2 separate regions of the Homo sapiens genome follow, and region 1 is linked to region 2. Evidence: fine-mapped expression QTL. A gene starts in region 2. The other region holds a variant in brackets. All regions are shown on one strand. Distances are between the middles of the regions. Region 1 overlaps MMP2-AS1 (MMP2 antisense RNA 1). Region 2 holds the start of MMP2-AS1 (MMP2 antisense RNA 1).

The links. PIP is the estimated chance that this variant, and not a neighbour inherited with it, causes the effect. A credible set is the group of variants that fine-mapping cannot tell apart.
Region 1: its variant is the best candidate, but not a certain one, in a credible set for the expression of MMP2-AS1 in vagina (GTEx, PIP 0.82).

What each region holds. Positions count from the first base shown.
Region 1 is chr16:55,435,158-55,443,157 of GRCh38, forward strand. The region is part of intron 4 of MMP2-AS1 (MMP2 antisense RNA 1); the gene reads right to left. Among named protein-coding and RNA genes, the nearest start is that of MMP2-AS1, 23 kb to the right of the region's middle. The variant G/A (reference allele first, on the strand shown) is at 3,284.
Region 2 is chr16:55,453,503-55,465,406 of GRCh38, forward strand. It overlaps MMP2-AS1 (MMP2 antisense RNA 1), which reads right to left and starts at 8,795. Exons shown (of 7, transcript NR_147198.1): 1 at 8,673-8,795.

The sequences.
Region 1 (8,000 bases), 20 kb before region 2:
TATTTCTCTGTGCATTCCCTGGTTATCACCCCTGGAGGTGAAAGCAGTGCCTCTATTATTATTAATGTTTTAATTTCAAGACAAGAAGAGTTCTTAGACATCAGCTAGCCTTGTCTCCCTGCCACAATTTTGCAGTTCAGGAAACCGAGGCCCAGGGAGGGGACGAGCTTGTTTGGGGACACAGAACAAGTTGGAACTTCCATCAGCACGTTGGGAGTATTTACGGATCATACACACCCACACAAGTCTGGGTTTGTGTTTTCCCTGGTCCTCAAGAAAAAGCCCACCGGGTTGCCAGATGTGCCGAGCTCAAAGGAGTCCAAGGAAGTGGTTTAACAGCGATGAGAAGCAGGCCCAGTCAGGGGTATAATCTGGCCTTCCCATCAGCCTCGCCTTTCTGCCTACAGGAGATAAGAGGCTGGTGTGGAGGAAACTGATATACAGCCACACGCCACAGAAATCATGTCCTTCTGCAGGCTTGGGCCACCTCCTCTCCCAGTCTTAGGCTTATGTGAAGCCTCAGAACCCTGGAGCCCATGTGTGAATGAGAAGCATCTACCTTGGCTGAGTCCTGTCCTTTCCCCTTTTCCTTCCATTTCTCATGGTCCCCTCTTTTCCCAAGGCTTCTGTTGAAAGAAAGTGCTTGAAATGTGCATTTCTGCTTTGTGTGCCAGCTCTTGCATTTCTTTACAGAAACTGCAGAAGAGAGAGCAATGCTTACCTCAAAGGCGTGAGGTTCCAATGGTGGAACTACCATTAGAGCCTGTTTGGCCTTGAGGGACCTCCCGGTCAATGTCAGATGATAGCTCTTGAGGGACCCCTTTCTCCAGCTCCTGGGAAGCTTTCCCTGAAGCTCAAGGGGACTCTGTCTCTCCGGGCTCTCTTGCCTCCCTCATCCCATTTATTGTCATGTCAGAGCAGACCTTGGCTACAAATTCCCTATTTTCACTTTTAAAACTACGTCAATACATATGTGTGTCTGTGAGTTTGTATGATGGGGGTGAGGGAAGGGGAGAAGAGGGGATGAGAGAAGGGAAGAGGGGAAGGGAGGGGAGGAGAAGAGAGGGGAGGTGAGGAGAGGAAAGAAGAGGAGCGGAGAGGAGGGGAGGGGGACAGACATGGGCCAGAGGAGAGAGGAGGGAGGGGAGAGGGAGAGTGAATCACCTGCTATGTGTTCAAATCCTCCCAACAATCAACCATCCTGTGAAGCAGGTCTTCTTGCCCCATTTTCCAAATGAGGACCCTGAGGCTCCCCTTGTCCTCTCCACCACTTGCTTTCACTTCCTTCCTCTCCTGTGCACTCCTCCTTTCCTACCTGAACATTATCTTCATTCCCAAATTTGGAGTTGGTCCTGTGTTCCCCTGAACATTATCTTCATTCCCAAATTTGGAGTTGGTCCTGTGTTCCTGGGGGCACGTTGCCGGTGCATAGGTGTGGGGCTGCAAGCCTGCAGTCCGTCTCACCATGGGGCTCCATGCAGTGGAGTTTATTCCTGGATGGACATCTGGACCTGCAAGATTTATGGGGACCCACAAGATGCTGCCAAAGGCTCTTTTTATGGGTAGTTGCAACACAGAACAGAATATCACTGTGGTCAGGCACCCTGGAGACAGAGAGAGCAGGGGTGCCTGACTGGCTGTGCATCCAACAAATGGGGCAGTACTAACTAGTCCTAGTGCTAGTACTTACCTCATAGGATTATTGCGAGGATGAGCTAAGATAATGGGGTGTTTCCAGAGGTGCAGAGACCACGGGTGGTATTGAAAATGATTTGAAATAATGCACAGACAAGGCATTAAATAGCACTGACTCAAACAGTAAGTGTATTAGGTCCTTTTTAGCTCTCTTTGAATTCTTCTAATTACGTCAAGAAAGTCTCCAGTTGATGCTATTGTGTCTTTAATGCCTAACAAGTACTAATTATTTTTGTTGTTTTGTTCTCTGTGTTTTAACAAAGGGAGTGAAGACTTCAGGCTCAGAGTCCCACTGCAGGCAACAGTGTCTAGGTAGAACTTAATACATATTTTCTTTTTTATTGGAATAATTTTTATGGTTAGTGGTTTTCTATTCACAGAAATAGTATAAAATTTTCTGTGTGAGTAAATGGATTTAGGTTTTAAAAGCAGATCCATTTAAAGGGGAGAACAGCATTAAGTAGATCATAGTATCAATAACATTCAAATATGTCCAAAATTATAAAAGGAGCCCACAGTGATGAAATTTTCAGAATCATTGAGATAATCCACGTCAAGAGCACAGTGGTGGTTATTACTCTTCTGGTGTTGACCCAAGAGTTTCCACATCTAAAACAGGTGGGACAAACTAGGTAGTTTGGGCCCTTCCAACTCTGAGGATCCAAAGTCCTTACTTATTTAGTACCTTGTTTTCCTCTGTCAGGTTCAAAGACAGATTCTCCAATGAGTGATCTTCATCAAATGAAGCTTGGGCTACTCCCAAGGAATCCTGCCACTCTGGAAGATGTTTGATGCAAAATATCTCTGGGGTCAGACAAGTCGACTTATGCTTTCTGAGTCTCAGTTCTTCATCTGCAAAATGCTGTGCCTGATAGCACTAACCTCCGGGTTCTGTAGATTTCATAAGATTATGTAATGTAGCACAAAATGTGAAAAAGTGACCACGAGATATGTATCAATGCCCAGACAAGGCATTGAGTAATACTGACTCACACAGCAAGTTTCCCTATTGCATCAATGAGAAAGTCTCAGTCTGGTAATAATATTGCCTAAGTGCTTTTCTTACACCTGCCAAATAACCCTTTAATTAAGTAGAGGGAAAGGCCTCAAGGCCTTAGGCTTTTGGCAGGCAATAAGATCCAACTGGGATATTAGAGATAGGCTTAGAGGAATATGAAGACTATATCCCCACATTAGCCCTGGGAACAGAACAGGAGCCAAGGGACAGTGGTATTTGAGCTGACCCCTGAAGAGACAGAAAGATTCCTCCAGGCAAAACATACTGGAAAGATGTACAAGGCATCAGGAAAAGCAATCCCTTAAAATCAGGAGGCCTTAGCCAGGTTTGTGCTACAGACCCTCCAGGGGAGGTCTATGGACCTCCTTATGGAATAATGTGGGTTTTAAAATGTGAGATGAAAATATTGGCATTGTTCTTGTGGATTTTTAAATAGTGATAAAATATACATGACATAAAATGTATTATTTTAACTATTTTTAAGTGTACAAGTCAGTGACATTAAGTATTCACATTATTGTATAGCCACCACCATATCCATCTACAGAACTGTATCTTCCCAACCTGGAA[G/A]TCTACACCCATTAACAATACCACTCATTATTTCCTCCTTTCCCATCTTGGGGCAATCATCACTCTACTTCCTGTGAATGAACTTGACTGCTCTACATATCCCATGTGAGTGGAATCATATAGTATTTGTCCTTTTTTAATTATCCTATTTATCCCAAGTCAGGCTTACTTCACTTAGCATAGTCTTCAAGGCTCATTCCAGAATAATGTCATTGCATGCATAAAATTTACAAAACAGCATTACAAAGAAAAGTTATATTAAATAACAGTTATCTAAATAATTATTTAAATTAATATAGTAATATGTGGGCTTTTATTAACCAAGATATAATAAGATATAGAGGTGGGTCTACTCATCACTATAATTTCCAGAGAGTAGTGAGTCTGTTTCAAGATACTCTGTAGCAACTATAATGTGATATGAAAATATCTGTGATATCTATTAATGACGAAGTCACAAAAGTCCCATGTAGTGCTGATACAATTTTAGTTGTTGCCTACATTCAGAATTGAAGGAAATGCTAACTGTCAGTTAGAAGTTAGCAAAAATTTAAAAATACATTTTTTTTTCCCATTCAAGCTAAGAATTCCATGGAATTCTTAGAAGTCTTCCATTTCATGGAACCCAGGTTAAGAATCTTCACCCCATGAAAGGAATATTTTTATTCTTCATAAGTTTATTTCATTCTTGGTCCAGAGGTGAGGCAAAGATCAGCTCCTCTCAGCTTCTACTTGGCCCCAGAAACCAACTCTTTGGCATAGACAGTAAGGCTGGGTTTTGGACACGAAACATTTTTCATTAACCCCCACCCACCCCGCCCAGGTATTATGTTTGAAAAGCAGTCTGTGACAGGGAGTGGTTAAAACAGAAGACAAGTTTGTTTCACTCCAAAATCTCTTCCATTTGGTCTCATGGTTCATTAGTATTTGTTGTGCAACACCAAAAAAAAAAAAAAATGCACTCAGATGTAAATGCAGGGACGGCCCAAAACACAGGAGACACTCCACGTGTCTAGACAGCAATGTTCTAACCAACAGAGGAGACACACTGCGCTGTTCATAGTAGTTGCTTAATTTTTCTCATCTGCAAACAGGCTATGGATTGCCAACCTTTAATTAAGAAACAGTTTTCTTTTCAAAAAGAATGTGTTCTAATAAATACCAGCTGAGCTGGGATGGAGGCGCTATAGAAATTACAACTGCAGCTGAAAAACCATGAGACTTGCAGCAGGCTAACCATGAAGACCTTCAGGAAAGGAATAGTTTCCATGTGCTTTGGAGATGAGGACATGCCTCGTGGGCTATGCTCCTTGGCTTCAAAGCCAAGCCACAGCGCCGGTGCTGTGGGTTCTGCCTTCTTGGGCAGAGAGAGGACAGAAAGAGGCAGAAAGACAGTGAGGCAGGGTATTGGCTTAAATGACCTCTGCCTTGACATTCTATGACTTTAAAATCAAAGAGGTACTCAGGGTAAGGTTAGAAGTGTTCTTACTACAGCTGATATCATTGACTTTGCAAAAGGGAGTTCCTAGCAAAGAAAATGTTTCTTCAGATTGAAGTGTCTTGGTATTTGAAATGTCTTAGCATCCCTGTGACCCTCCCTCCACACGTAGTGTTGCCAGATAAAATGCAAGATGTCCAGTTAAATTTGAACATCAGATTAAAAATGAATAATTTTCAGTGTACATATATCCCGTGCAATAAGCTAAAAATATACAAAAGCATTATTTGTTGTTTATCTGAAATTCAAACTTAACTGTGTGTCCTGTATTTTTACTTACTAAATCGGCCAACTCTACTCCCACTCAAACCAGATCTTTCCTCCGATCCACTTTCCTCCAGTTCTTTGTAGAGAAATGCCAGGCCAGCCTGGCACAGACTGAGGTCAACTTAGAGACATGTGTACAGTCAGCATAATGGTTAAGAACACCAACTTTGGAGTCTCAAAGACTTAAAGTAGCCTTCAACTCAAGCCTGTCGCTTTTTGATGGGTTTATCTTGAGAAGCTTTCATGACCTCCCAGGGCCTCAGCTTTGTCCTTTGCAGAATGGGGAGATTGAAAGTCACGGCTGATGTTCAGCCATATCCAATAGTACAAAATCCATACCAGCAGTTTAAAAATTAGAGCATTTCCCAGGCCAGTTGTCAAATAGCTTCCCAATCTCCCCTTCATTGTGCCAGGCACCCTGGCTCCTCCCCACCTCTTTCCTCATCTAGCAACAAATACCTGGCACAGTCAGGGGTCTCCAGGACCCTGTTCTAGTGTTTAACTCAGTGTTCTTTCTGATTGGCAAGTATCTGTGGCTTATTGATAGTTAAATAAATTGACAACCACTCCTGTTAGGAATACCCACCTCAAAGGTTGTTGTAAGGGGTAGGTGAAATGATGTGAAAGAACTGTGATATAGGGTTTGGCCCAGAGATCTCTCTCTCACACACACACACACACAGAATGAATGAATGAATGAATGAATCCCTGTGCTACTTATAAGGAAGAGCCTTGCCTTTTTTTGCACATGGCAAACCATTCTCTCTCTCTCTCTCTCTCTCTTTAATAAACCTTAAAGATCATTCTACTTCTAGTTTAATTTCTTCCTCTTTACATGGAGGAAAACTGAGATTAGGCATAATTTACTGACTTATCTAAACAAGTCCACTTTTATGCATTGTAGGTTTGAGGGATCGTTGGAAAGATCTTTTGCTCAAAAACATTCCTTTCATCCAACTGCCACAAAGCCTGAAATTTCACCATTAGCATTTTAGCCATCTTTAAAAATTGCACTAACACTTATCAAGATATTTCTCAAAGCCCACTCTCTTTAAGCTAGAAATGACCCAGGGTCATCCTGAGAACCTCAAGCGCTGGGCTGGAGGGTGGTAAAAAAGAGATTCTGAAAGAAGTTGAAAGGAGACCTGGGACGTGCCAAAGACACATGCGTCCAACTTTAAAACTGTGTGACTGGCTGGCTATGCATTAGATTGTCCCACTGGGGCAGTTGTGCATTTGTGCTGTTGCATAATACAGAAGGACAAAAAGCATAAATACTAACTGATCACTTCATTCAAAAGAACTTCCCAAAAGGAAGCCAGACCCCTTTGATGCTGCCTTATGCTTAGGCAAAGCTAAAAGTCGTTTTTATACTGTTGGTCAAGGGTTTTTCAACTGGATGCCTGGAAATGTTTTTCACAGATCTACAAAGCATGGATCATACAACAAAGCCTCAAAATATACAGGGGCAAAAATCTAGCTGGGATTGTATCCATTCATATATACAAGTTGGTTCCACCACTGGGTTAATGCTAACTGCTGGAGTCCAGCATCTCTTGTATTAGATATATCTTTATCCGCTGACAGTTGAATTCGATCCACCTGCACATTATTTTGAGGACAGGTGTTGAGAGCTAACCAGTTGCTGGTATAGGCTAGTCTGTTTCCCCCAGAACACAATATTGTCCTGTGCTGTGTAATGGTGTTTCGGTCAATGACAGGCTGCATATATGACAGTGGTCCCATAAGATTATAACGGAGATGAAAAATTCATATCACCTAGTGACACGGTAGCCATTGTAATACTGTAGTGCAATTACTTTATTTTTTATAAATTTAGCATGGCCTAAGTCTACAGTGTTTATAAAGTCTCTAGTGGTATACAGTAATGTCCTGGGCCTTCACCTTCACTCACCACTCACTCACTGACTCACACAGAACAAATTCCAGTGCTGCAAGCTCCATTCACAGTAAGTGCCCTATACAGGTGTACCATTCTCTACTTTTTATACCATAATTTTACTGGACCTTTTCTATATTTACATATGTAAATGCTTACCACGGTGTTACAATTACCTACAGTATTCAGTGTGATACATGCTATACCGGTTTGTAGCCTAGGAGCAAAAGGCTATTCCATATAGCTTATACCATCTAGGTGTGTGTAAGTACACTGTATGAGGTTGGCACAATGATGAAATAGCCTCTCAGAACACATCCCCATCCGTCACCAACACATGACTGTAAAATTCAACATCCAATCATTTGACTGATTTAGTTTAGAAGATCAGAATCTAAAGAAATTTTTTTTAAACTTCTGGAAAAACAGGGGTTAAAATTCTGGCACTTTTCTTCAAACATCAATATTTGTGACTTATTAATTACCAATGGATGATCACCAAACGAGGAAGGATCTTCCCATCAGAGTCTAATTAGTTTCATTGTCTTTTTTTTTTTCTGGATTCCATTGTATTTCACTCTACCCTTCGGCTGCCTGTTTTAATTAATGTTGCACTACATTCAAAGGTTTTGCTTTTGTGCCTCTCTGTTTGATTTAAATTCCTTTTTGCAAATAAATAAATAAATAAATAACTATCAAAGCTAATGAGGCTCTGAAGATTTGAGATGTAAATATCATATGCAGATTCTTTTTTGGTCCCAGCTCAGCGGAAGACCAAAAATAACACTTGAAAGTTTGATTAAGAAATCTCAGGCTCCCCATCTCATGCCTCCCTCCAGACAATCTTTCTGCTGGCATTTTCAGTTATTTGACAAAAAAAAAAAATCAAGCCCCCCAAACCCAAAACCTCAAGAGCAAGCTCCTTTCAAGACTGGCTCAGATGGGCATGGTATTGTGCTGAGCTGCTATTTAAGATCCAGCCCGGACTGACTGATTCCTGTCTGTCCTGAGAGATCTGTGCATGTCAATGCATCCACTCACCACACACACAC
Region 2 (11,904 bases):
GGGCCCCAAGGCTCATGCCTGTAATCCCAGCACTTTGGGAGGCTGAGGTGGGAAGATTGCTTGAGGCCAGGAGTTTGAGACCAACCTGAGCAACATAGCAAGACCCTGTCTCAACAAAAAAAATAAAAATAAAAAAGTCAGTTGTGTATAGTGGTGCATGTCTGTAGCCCCACCTACATGGGAGGCTGAGGAGGGAGGATTGCTTGAACCCAGGAGGTCAAGGCTGCAGTGAGCTATGATGGCGCCACTGCACTCCAGCCTAGGTGGCAGATGAGATGTCTCTAAAAATAATAGAAAACTAAAAATTTTAAAAGTCAATGTCCTTAGACCTGTCTTGGCCTCTCAGTTGTGTGTGACCTTGAGCGAATGCCTTTCCATCTTTAGGCTTCTCCTTTTCCATAGCACAAACCAGAGAAACATTTATGAGACTTTAAGTTGGCACAGTGGTGATTTCTGCTCAGTCCTTGATCTCATCTCAGGCCCAAGGCCAATGCTGATCTTTGTGCTGACATCACCTCTGTTTAGAGAGCTTGTCTTAATAGGCTTCTCCTGCTTGAATCTGCCCATGACTTCCTCCTTGTGCCCTGCCTGGACCATAGCCACAAGAAATGCTTCCATAATTGCTGAGATTGCAGCATTTCGAGTCTTTAACAATGGAGAGCCTAGGAAAGTGGCATCCATCACCACCTCAGAGAGTAGTGACTGCCTGGGCTACAGCCAGAGAGCTATTGCCAAGTGAGGGACTTCCTCCTCTGTCCCCTGGCAGTCCTAACCCTGTCCTTATGCATGGTGGGGGCACGTACTTTTCTTTCTTTCTTTTTTTTTTTTTTTTGAGACAGAGTCTCGCTCTGTCGCCCAGGCTGGAGTGCAGTGGTGCGATCTCGGCTCACAGCAAGCTCTGCCTCCCGGATTCACGCCATTCTCCTGCCTCAGCCTCCCAAGTAGCTGGGACTACAGGGGCCCGCCACAATGCCTGGCTAATTTTTTGTATTTTTTTAGTAGAGACAAGGTTTCACCATGTTAGCCAGGATGGTCTTGATCTCCTGAACTTGTGATCCGCCCGCCTTGGCCCCCCAAAGTGCTGGGATTACAGGGGAGGCACGTACTTTTAATAACGCGGGGAAGGCAGGCCCTGCCTCACAGGTGGTGGCCCTTCTTGCTGTTGATGTGAGGTCCCTGGGAAGATGCCAGCCATAATCATCCACCACCTGATGCCACAGACAGCTTGTGAGGGCAGTGCCCCTTGACTCCCACTTCTGCATCCCTGGTACCTTTCACAGAGATGGCACATAGCAGGGCAACGTTGGTAGATTAACTGACTCACTGGGGAAAGAATCGTTTCACTGATGGAGAATTCAGGAGCCAGAAAGGAGAAGAAACTTGCCTAAGGCCTGTTCCTCTCTTCTCCCTCTCACTGTCTTCATACACACCACGTGCGCGCACACACACACACATACACGCACACATCCAGATACCAGACAGGCACATACAGTCACACAGACGCTCACACAGAGATACTCAGTTCCCAGACAGACACAGTCACATGCAGACACTCACACTTACACATAAACACTCAGATACCAGACAGACACACACACTCACACTCAGACACTCACATTCACACATAAACACTCAGATACCAGACAGACACACACACTCACACAGGGACACTCACACACTCACACACTCAGAATGGAAACATACACACATGCACGGACTGCTATAGTCTAAATGTCAGTATTCCCCAAAATTCCCATGTTGAAATCTTAACTCCCAAGGTGATGGTGTTAGGAGGCAAGGCCTTTGGGTGGTGACTGGGTCATGAGGTAGGAGCTCTTGTGAATGGAATCAGTGCCCTCATAAAAGAGGCCAGAGAGAGACCTCTTGTCTCTTCAACTACATAAGGACATAGCTGGAAGTCACTGTCTGTTAACCAGAAAGGGATCCCCCACCAGACACTGAATCTGCTGGTGCCATGATCTTGGACTTCCCAGCCTCCAGAACTGTGAGCAATAAATTCTGTTATTTTAAGTAACCCAGTATATGAAATGTTGTTATGGCAGCCCAAATGGACTAAGACACAGGCACACATACACAGACAGACATACACAGACAGACACATAGACACACCCCTAGAGATACATGCTTACACACTCAGACACACATATGTACAGACCACATACACATAGATACATGTATACATAAACACATGCACACAAACGTGTATATACACAGGCACATAAAGACACACATATAGACACACACTGTCACACACACATACACATATAGACCTTCTCTAATCTTTTCCCTGCCTTTTGCTCCTGGAAGCCACTCCTGTATCAACAGCAATTCACCCAGTCCTCTTGCTCAAACTCATTGTCCCAAGTGCAGAGGTGCCCTCTCTCTTACACCTCTGTCAAAGTTACACACGTTGTCAGGTTCATGCTAAATATTTGACTTCTCATTCAAGTTGCCCCTCTCAGGAAAACCTTACCCTTGAAACAGAGGTCTTCCTCCTGGGCCTTAGGAAAAAGAATCAACCTGGAAGGACATTTCCACTGGTGGGGAGAGATTTCCTCATCATTCTTCAAATCCAGTCTTCAGGAAGCATTTAATTCTCTTGAGACATGAGTAGGGAACACACCAATTCATGGCTTTGGCCAGCCTTGACCTTGAGCTGGATAAAACATTTTTGTCCAGAGTTGTAAAAATGCAATGTAGCTTTTTTGATGAAAAGCTTAAGATGGGCCAGGCACGGTGGCTCACGCCTGTTATCCCAGCACTTTGGGAGGCCGAGGTGGGTGGATCACCTGAGGTCAGGGGTTCAAACCAGCCTGGACAACATTGTGAAACCCTGTCTCTACCAAAAATTAGCCAGGCATGGTGGCGCCCGCCTGTAATCCAGCTACTTGGGAGGCTGAGTCAGGAGAATCACTTGAACCCAGGAGGCAGAGGTTGCAGTGAGCCAAGATCGCACCACTGCACTCCAGCCTGGATGACAGTACTAGACTCTGCCTCAAAAAAAAAAAAAAAAAACAAAAAAAAACGCTGAAGATGGTGCTGTTAGACCATGAATGCCCACTTTCTCTGTGCCTATTTCTCAGGGTTTTCATTTTTCCTTATCTGCTTATCTTTTCCTTTGTGTCTTAGCTCATGAATCCGTATATGTCTCCTGCACACGGTTGCTGGTTTGGAGCCTTTTGGGGTCTGTTTTCTGATCATCCATCCAGCAAGAGACCTTTACTCAACTGCTGTTCAAAATTTATGACACTGTGTCATCTCCAGCAGACAATTTGGCCATAATTTAACATTTGTGTCCTTTCAAATAACTCAAATGCTTTTTTTTCATTGTCCTAGATGCCCTATTTGGGAGGCAGGGATGGGAAAGACATGCCTGGGTTTGCTTTGGCTTTGTTTGAGCCAGTTGCTGAGAAGTAGTATATATTTTGTTCAGCTCATCTGTCTTTCCAGCTTTTGATCAATAGCAGAGTATGTGTTTTTTATCCAAAAACTAACCAAATGTATTCAACAGATTATACATTAATTTTACCATCATGACATCGTATGAACAGATAATCCACAAAAAAGCTCCATATTTCCTAAAAGTGAATTTAATTATAAGTAGTAATGTGTGCTGGAGAATTATAATTATGAAAAGTCATGTTCTGTAAGTCTGAAATGACAGATTATATTTCAAAGGCTTATTGCAGAGGAATTAAAGGACCCAATTTATTAGTTGTAAATGTATGATTATTGCAGCTTTGCTTTACACACACACACACATGCAATCACAGTATATTCTAGCTGGATTTAATACTTATAATCCTTTCGACAAGAACTGTATTTTGCACCAAAAGCTGCCACTCCATTAATTTGTTTGTGAGACAGAGACAGGCAACTAATCTTTGCCTTTTGATTCCTGAATAGCAATAATTTCAAGTACTTTGTGGGCATGTTTTGTGCCCCTTACTCCCATCCCCACAAAGTGATTAAGAAGTTGACATGGATTGAAGAACAGAAATATTATTGCCCAAAAAGAAACAGAGAGGGTCTCATGAAGGCTGGGAGGTGCTGAGGCTGCAAAGGACTTGGGCCTGGGCTATTTGTTCATACAACGAATATTTATTGAACGTCTGCTATGTTCTAGGCACCATACTAAGTATATTCTACCTGCTACCTCAATTGAGCCTCTCAGAACAACACTCGAAGGTAGATATATTGTAAACTTATTTCACAGATGGGGAAACTGAGGCTCAAAGAAATCATCAACTAACCTGCCCAGGGTAACCGAGTTCAAGAGTGGTGGAGGCAAGACGTGAATGCAGGTGTGTTGGTGAAAACACACACTTCAGGGCAGTCTGGCACATCTACAGCCGCATCAGGTGGAGTAAGAGGGCTGTGTTTATAACACTCTCAAAGACAGAGCTGGGGAAGGAGGAGTCAATTGTGCTGGGTCAAGATGTGAAGGATGGCATCAAGGGAAGCCCAAAAGGATAGAGTGAGACATTGTAGACACAACATTGAGCCACACCCTGAAGGAGAAGAAAGTTTCTCCAGGCACAGAAAGAGTATTCCTGGCAGAAGGAACAGGTTGCAAAGTAGACAGGTTCAGAAGAACATAAAGAAAAAGGGCCTTGTGTTTGCAAAGGTGTGACAAGGACTAAGGGTGTAAGGGAGAGCTGAGGAGAGGGACAAAAGGCAGAGGCAGGAGGTAAGCCTGGAATAGTCCATGGCAAAAAGCCTTTACTGCCAAGCTAAGGAGTTTAGTTTTCTCCTGTAGACAATGGGGAGCCAGTTCATGAGCATGAGTTGGTTGTATTGGAGGACGAGATGGTCAACTCACTTGCCTACAGGGCCAAGTAGGTAAGAGATATGAAAGACAGACCTAGTGAGATTGGGTTCAGGCCTGTAATCCCAGTACTTTGGGAGGCCGAGGCAGGTAGATCACCTGAGGTCGGGAGTTCAAGAGCAGCCTGAGCAACATGGAGAAACCCCGCCTCTACTAAAAATATAAAATTAGCCAGTTGTGGTGGCACATGCCTATAATCTCAGCTACTCAGGGGGCTGAGGCAGGAGAATCGCTTGAACCCGGGAGGCAGAAGTTGTGGTGAGCCAAGATCGCGACATTATACTCCAGCCTAGGCAAAAAAAGTGAAACTCCATCTCAAAAAAAAAAAAAAAAAAAACAGAAACAGCACATCCTAACAGTAACCATCCTGAAAGGGTGGTTCCTATTTTGTTTCAGTTTACTGTGGATACTGGGAATTTGCTAAGAAAGGCTAGAAATACTAGTGACTTGGTAGACTGATGGCAAAAATAGCCCCAATCTTCCACGTCTTCAAACTTTTTATAAGTGACTTTGTACCCTCTCCCATTGCAAGCTAGAGTCTATTTCCCCACCCGTTGAATCTGCTGTGACTCACTGAGTGTGTCAGAAGCAAAGTTGTGTCTGTTCTGAGCCTAGGCTTCAAGTGGCCTTGCACATTTCCATCCTCTGCCTTGGAAGCCGCCTCCACCGTGAAGACAAGCCCAGGCTGCACTGCTGGGGACCAGAGCCCACACAGAGCAGAGCCACGCCATCCCATGGGCTGCATAGACCCGCCCAGCTCGGCTGACCCATCAGCTCTGCAGATGAAAGAGAGCCCAGCCTAGATCAGCTAAGCCTGGATCAGCAGAACCACCCAGCCAGCCTGTAGACTAATTTTAAAAAAATGTATGAAACCATTATGCTTTGGAGTGGTTTGTTAGGCAGCAACAGCTAACGGATATAGCAACTAATTCATGTTTTAAAAAGCAGCTCAGGCCGGGCACCGTGGCTCACACCTGCAATCCCAGCACTTTGGGAGGCCAAGGCAGATGGATCACTTGAGGCCAGGAGTTTGAGATCAGTCTGGCCAACATGGTGAACCTCTGTCTCTACTAAAACATCAAAAATTAGCTGGGTGTGGTGGCACACACCTGCAATCCCAGATACTCAAGAGTCTGAGGCAGGAGAATCACTTGAACCCGGGAAGCAGAGGTTGCAGTGAGCCGAGATTACACCACTGCACTCCAGCCTGGCAATACAGCGAGACTCAGTCTCAAAAAAAAAAAAAAAAAAAAAAAGCAGCTCTATGTGACTCCCTCCCTCCCCCTACAAAAAAATAGAGGGTTCAGAGACTCAGTCAACAGCATTTCTGGTTCAACAAGCATCAAAACTAGCTGAGTTCTAGGTCACTGGGGTGGGGCAGAGGAGAGGTCTAAGGACATTTCACACCCTGACACCAGTCTGTCCTTTTCTTGGGGGTTATTTCCAACCACAGACTCCTTTGCAGCCTCAGAATCCCCGAAAGCAGCTCTCCCAGGCCCCACCCAGCTTCCCTCCTGCAGTGCTTATGCCCAGTTCATGCACCAGTCTCCAATCCAGCCATCTCCTCTCACCCCTGGCCCTCAGCTTCATTTGCCTGGGCCTGTGACACCCAAGGTCTTGGAACCCTATTAGGTTGGTGCAAAGGTAATTGTGGTTTTACCATTGAGTAAAACCACATTTACTTTTGCACCAATGTAATAGATGCTGAAAAAACGGCCTTGTTTGGGAGCTCAGGAAAGCAGCTGGCTGAATTCAGAGAGACAGGACTGACTGGGATCCCCACAATCCTCACTCTCCTGGGGAATGGCCCCTCCGAAAAGCACCCTGCAGCCCCCGGGCTGATTTCATTGGGATATGCAGGAAGCCAACCGCTCCTGCTCACAACAACTACTCAGCACTGACTGTGTTTCAGACACCATCCTCAGCATCAGATGAGCAAAATCTAACACTCTCAGATGCCATCTGAGGTGGGCTTACTGAATATCACCCTTGGAAAGATGTGGAATTGTAAAAGAAGAAAAAAGGACCTCCCTTTGCTAGAGTGGGATCTTATTTCCGGCAGCCAAAGAGGCCAGGGCTGAAAAACGCCCAAATGGCCTCTGAAGCAAAATCTCACGATGAAACAAGCCTCAAAAAGCATTTACTAGCATTTCTGGTCATGGCTGTTACGGATGAAATGGTGCCTCACCTTCTGCACCCCCTCTGGCCCCCACACCTTCTATGTTCCTATCTCAGGGATTCTCCACAGGGACCTGGAAGGACAGCTGAGTGGACCGAGAGATCACACGGAGCCACTGTGAGGGGTCAGGGGATAGGGAGAGTGAGCTGCCCAGGGTGGCTGCAGAGAGGGGAGCTTGGGGAACAGAGACCGCAGGGAGAAAGAGCTGAGTGCAGCCTGAGCCCGTGATTTTCAAGCCCCGCCGCTGGCCTCCTAGGGTTCTTGTAATCATACTCCGACTCCCTTCTCCTTAGTTAGTCTAAGGGGGCTTCTGTTTCTTGCTCCCAACTGCTGCCTCACTAAGATAGACTCATTTTCAGATCTCTCTACGGATTGTAGCCTTTCCTGCAATTCCTGCCTGGATGGCTGCTCCTCCAGGCCTGGACTGGATGGAAGGTTCCAAGCGAGAACCTGCAGCATTTCTGCTTCTGCGGCATCATCCACCTCTGAGAACCACTCCAGAGGACAAGCTGAGGAGCCTTCCAAGAGCTCCATGTGTCTGTAAATGCCTTCAAAACCTGGTCTCAGTGCATCCTTTTTGCACCCACAGCCAGATAGCTGACCACACAACATCAGGATAGAGTGGTCACCACCCATTTTCTGTCATGGGAAAGGAAATTGCCCGGGAAAGGCCTTGCCCAGTGCAGACATGGCAGGCAATGCTGAGAGCTACAAAATCCTTCTAGAAGCTGTTGTCTTTCAGTTATTAAGACTATAAGGGCTGGGCATGGTGGCTCACACCTGTAATCCCAGCACTTTGGGAGGCTGAGGTGGGTGGATCACAAGGTCAGGAGTTTGAGACCAGCCTGGCCAACATGGCAAAACCCTGTCTCTGCTAAAAATACAAAAAAAAAAAAAATGCGCATGCCTGTAATCCCAGTTACTTGGGAGACTGAGGCAGGAGAATCGCTTGAACCTGGGAGGTGGAGGTTGCAGTGAGCCGAGATCACGCCACTGCACTCCAGACTGGATGACAAAGCAAGACTCCATCACGGAAAAAAAAAAAAAAAAAAAGAAGGCAGGCTGCCTAGCTTAGCTTTGCCATGACTAATCTACTTACCAGCTAAGCAACATTTGTGCAAGCTATTTCACCTCTGTGTGCCTCAGTTTCTTCATCTATAAAATAGAGATAATCATTTTACACCCCTCAATAAATGTCTTTTGAATCAATTAATGAATACTTGTAAAACACCTGGCATATTGTAAGCCCTTGTTAAATGTAAACTTTAAATGTTAAATGGTTTCTTTCTTTCTTTCTTTCTTTCTTTCTTTCTTTCTTTCTTTCTTTCTTTCTTTTCCTGTTTCTGTTCTCTCTCTCTCTCTTTCCCTCTTTCTCTCTTTCTCTCTTGGAAGGTCTCACTCTGTTGCCCAGGCTGGAGAGCAGTAGTGCAATCATGGCTCACTGCCTACAACCCCACCGTAAGTCCCTCTGGGATTCCATGATAGAGGTACTTATTCCAATTAGGGTCAAGCTGGAGGAAGAGGCGGCTGTGGCCTAGCTGTCAATTCCTCAGGGCTGGTCATTGGGGAGGAAGGGCAGGAACCAGCTGAGTTCACTGAGAGTTGGAACAGGAGACGCAGAAAGGTACAGATTTGGAAACTGACCTGGGTATCACAGTTAGGGCTCCAGGGCACTCCAGCCTGCGGTGGGAGTTTGTAGGTGTCTAAGCTGTGGCTGGGAGGGCAGTGGAAGAAAGTCAAGCTGTGCCAATTTTCCTATTTGAAGAGAAAGGGAGCAGGGGAACCAGAGTTCTAGGTGACACCATCGGGAAGACAAGCTGTGTCCTCAGCCCGGCCTGGGGGGAGGACTGGGTTGCAACTTACAGGAAAGAGGATTGACTGGATTCTTAGAAAAACAAGAGCCAAGGCTTGTTGCTGTGCAGAGGGATTGGGGTCACCAGCTGGCTGTTGTTACCGTGACTGATTCCTGATGCTTCGGAATTCAAGGGCAGGAGGCACTTGGGGCACTGGCTGAACCTTGGCTCCCTGACCCCTCCTCAGTCCCCTTCCTGGGCTCCACAACATATAAGATGAACGTTCTGATTGTCTATTTCTCCTCCCTTCTCGTTTTACTCTTCATTTGGTGGAGTGTATGGTAGGGATAAAATCTTAGAGATGTTTATCTGAGCCATAGAGAGACCTTATTGGGGGTGCATGGGAAATACACAAGTAATCCCAAGCTCACCTTGCCTGGGTGCCTGCGGAGGGCAATTGTGCATTAGCGGTAGAGTGTGGTGGGGACCTGGGCCTGGGTGGGCAGGGGAGAGCTTCTGGACAGGGGCTGGTGGATTAAGGTCATGCCCATAGGTGGGAAGCCACCCACACAGAATCACAGCATCTCAGAAGGGCAGTGCCAGAAAAATCCCCAGGGACCTCATTTTCCTTGGAACACAACCCAATTCCTTGGCTTGGCCAACCAGGCCTAGCGCATCTGGGCCCAACTTCATCTGCCTTCATTCCTCCACTGCATCAGTAGGGTCATTTGGGTGTAGGCCACAGAAGTAAACTCTGGCAACATAAGCGAAGGGGGATTTGTTAGAATAGGATAAGGGAGCCAGGCAACTGGAGCAGACATCAAGGTGGGAACACCAGGCCTCAGGGTCCCGCAGTTGCTGTGCCTGGGCTGCCATTGTTCCATCTGTATCTATGTCACGCGAGGTCATATGAGTGGGCCGGGCACGGTGGCTCACGTCTGTCATCCCAGCACTTTCAGGTGGATCACCTGAGGTCAGGAGTTCGAGACCAGCCTGGCCAACATGGTGAAACCCTGTCTCTACCAAAAATATAAAAATTTGCCAAGCCTGGTGGTGGGCATCTGTAATCCCAGCTACTCAGGAGGCTGAGGCAAGCTAATTGCTTCAACCCAGGAGGCAGAGGTTGCAGTGAGTCGAGGTCATGCCATTGCACTCCAGCCTGGGTGACAAGAGTGAAACTCTGTCTCAAAAAAAAAAAAAAAAAAAAAAAACCATATGAGTGTCCCATTGGCTCAGCCTAGATTACAGCCCCACCCTGGCAGGGTAGTAGGAGGAAGGCTTAGAACTGTCTTGGCTTCTGAAGAGGGCAGGACAGTAACCCAATCCACCTTCCCAGAAACACTGTCCTCAGTGGGGAGGAGGGACAACTCCCAAGGAGATGGGGACACATGCTCGCCAACCAAACCCACAAAAGCTCATTGTGCCTGTCGCTCTGCTCCAGCCACAGTGGCCTTCTTCTGTTCTTCAAATACAAAAAAGCTTGTTCCCACCCCAGGGCCTTTGCACTTGCCATCTGCTCTACCTGGAACACTCTTCCCCTTGTTCTGCATGTGACTGCTTCATTTTCCTCCTTCAGGACTCACACCTAACAAGGGCCTCCAAGAGGCCCTCCCTGACGACCCATTCTCAAGTTGCCCTCATCAGATAATCTTGACCTCATCCCTCCCAGGTCTCCTAGCCATCTAAAATTACCTTGTGTATGAGTCTGTTTGCTCTGTATTGCCTGTCTCCCCACTGGAATGCAAACGCCACAAGAGCAATGACTGCGGTTAATTGCTGCTATATATCCAGCACTCAGCACAGGGCTTAATAAGCATTTACCAGGCAAATAAACATATAGAGACAGAGAGCCCCAGAGGGACGGTGCTTTGGCCGAGGATGCCCAGAGAAAATACTGATGTCATTGAGGGTGCAGAAGCCAAATCTTGCTTGCTCCGGGGGCACTGGATGGCACCAGCCTAAGAGTGTGGGCACCAGAGCAGATTGCCTGGGTCAACACTCACTCTCTGTGTAACCTTGAGTGAGTTTCTTAACTTCTCTGTGCCTTGGTATCCTCATGCATAAAGAGATGACCATAATAATAATGCATTCTCAGGGGCTGTGGCAAGGATCACATGAACTAATACATGTAAAGTACTTAGAACAGGGCCTAACAATATTGTAACACTGTCAACAAGTGCAAGCTATTATGATTGGAAGACTTCCATGTCCTTATTTCTGATTGACAGGTCACTGCCCAGCCCCACCCTCGACCCAACCAGGATGAAGAATGGGCAAGCCAGATAGCTACAGTAATCGACAGACAGACAAACAAGAGCATCGTATGACCCAGGGGCCAACAAGTCCCACCCCAGTGACACCATCTCACTTTTGCAGAGCTCTTGCTCGCAAAGTGCAGCTAGGAGAACCCAGGCCTCCTGATGACAAATGCTCCTTCTTTCTGCCCCCCACGTGCCAAGAGCGAGGAGGGAAGATAGCTGCTGGCTCACTGTGTGGTCGTGGGTGAGTACATGTTACTCTCTGGGTCCCCATTTCCTCAACTTTAAATTGCAAACAAGAACCTCAGCCTGTCCCGTCTCCCTCTTAAGAGGATAAGTAGTGCCAATAAATAGTAAATGAGCTTTCTGAGACGTAAAGTGGATGCTGATTTTATTACCAAACAGGTGAGGAGCAGGTGCAAATAATTCAGCAGAAGTATTTGTACGGTCATGATTCTCAAAATTTTCCAGAGTTAAGAATCGCACGGGAATCTTGTTTAAAATATAAATTCTGTGGATGCATTCCCCCAAATTCTGATTATGTAGCTCTAAGATGGAGTCCCAGAATTTTTTAAAAAACCTCATCCTCAGGCGATGCTGAGGCTGAAGCTAATGGACCGTGATTGTGCATTAAAGCCACTAGATGGTGCCATGAGCCCAGAGAATGGGCTGATCTAGGCCGCTCTGAGCCCTGAGGCTGCTTCTCCAAAAGTGGCCACCAGATGGCGCAGCCTATCTGCAGAAGGAAGCGCGCCTTAGAAATGTGGGATCGGGGCTGGAGTCACCCCGCCTTAGCGAACCTGTGGTCTGAGAGAACAGATCCTT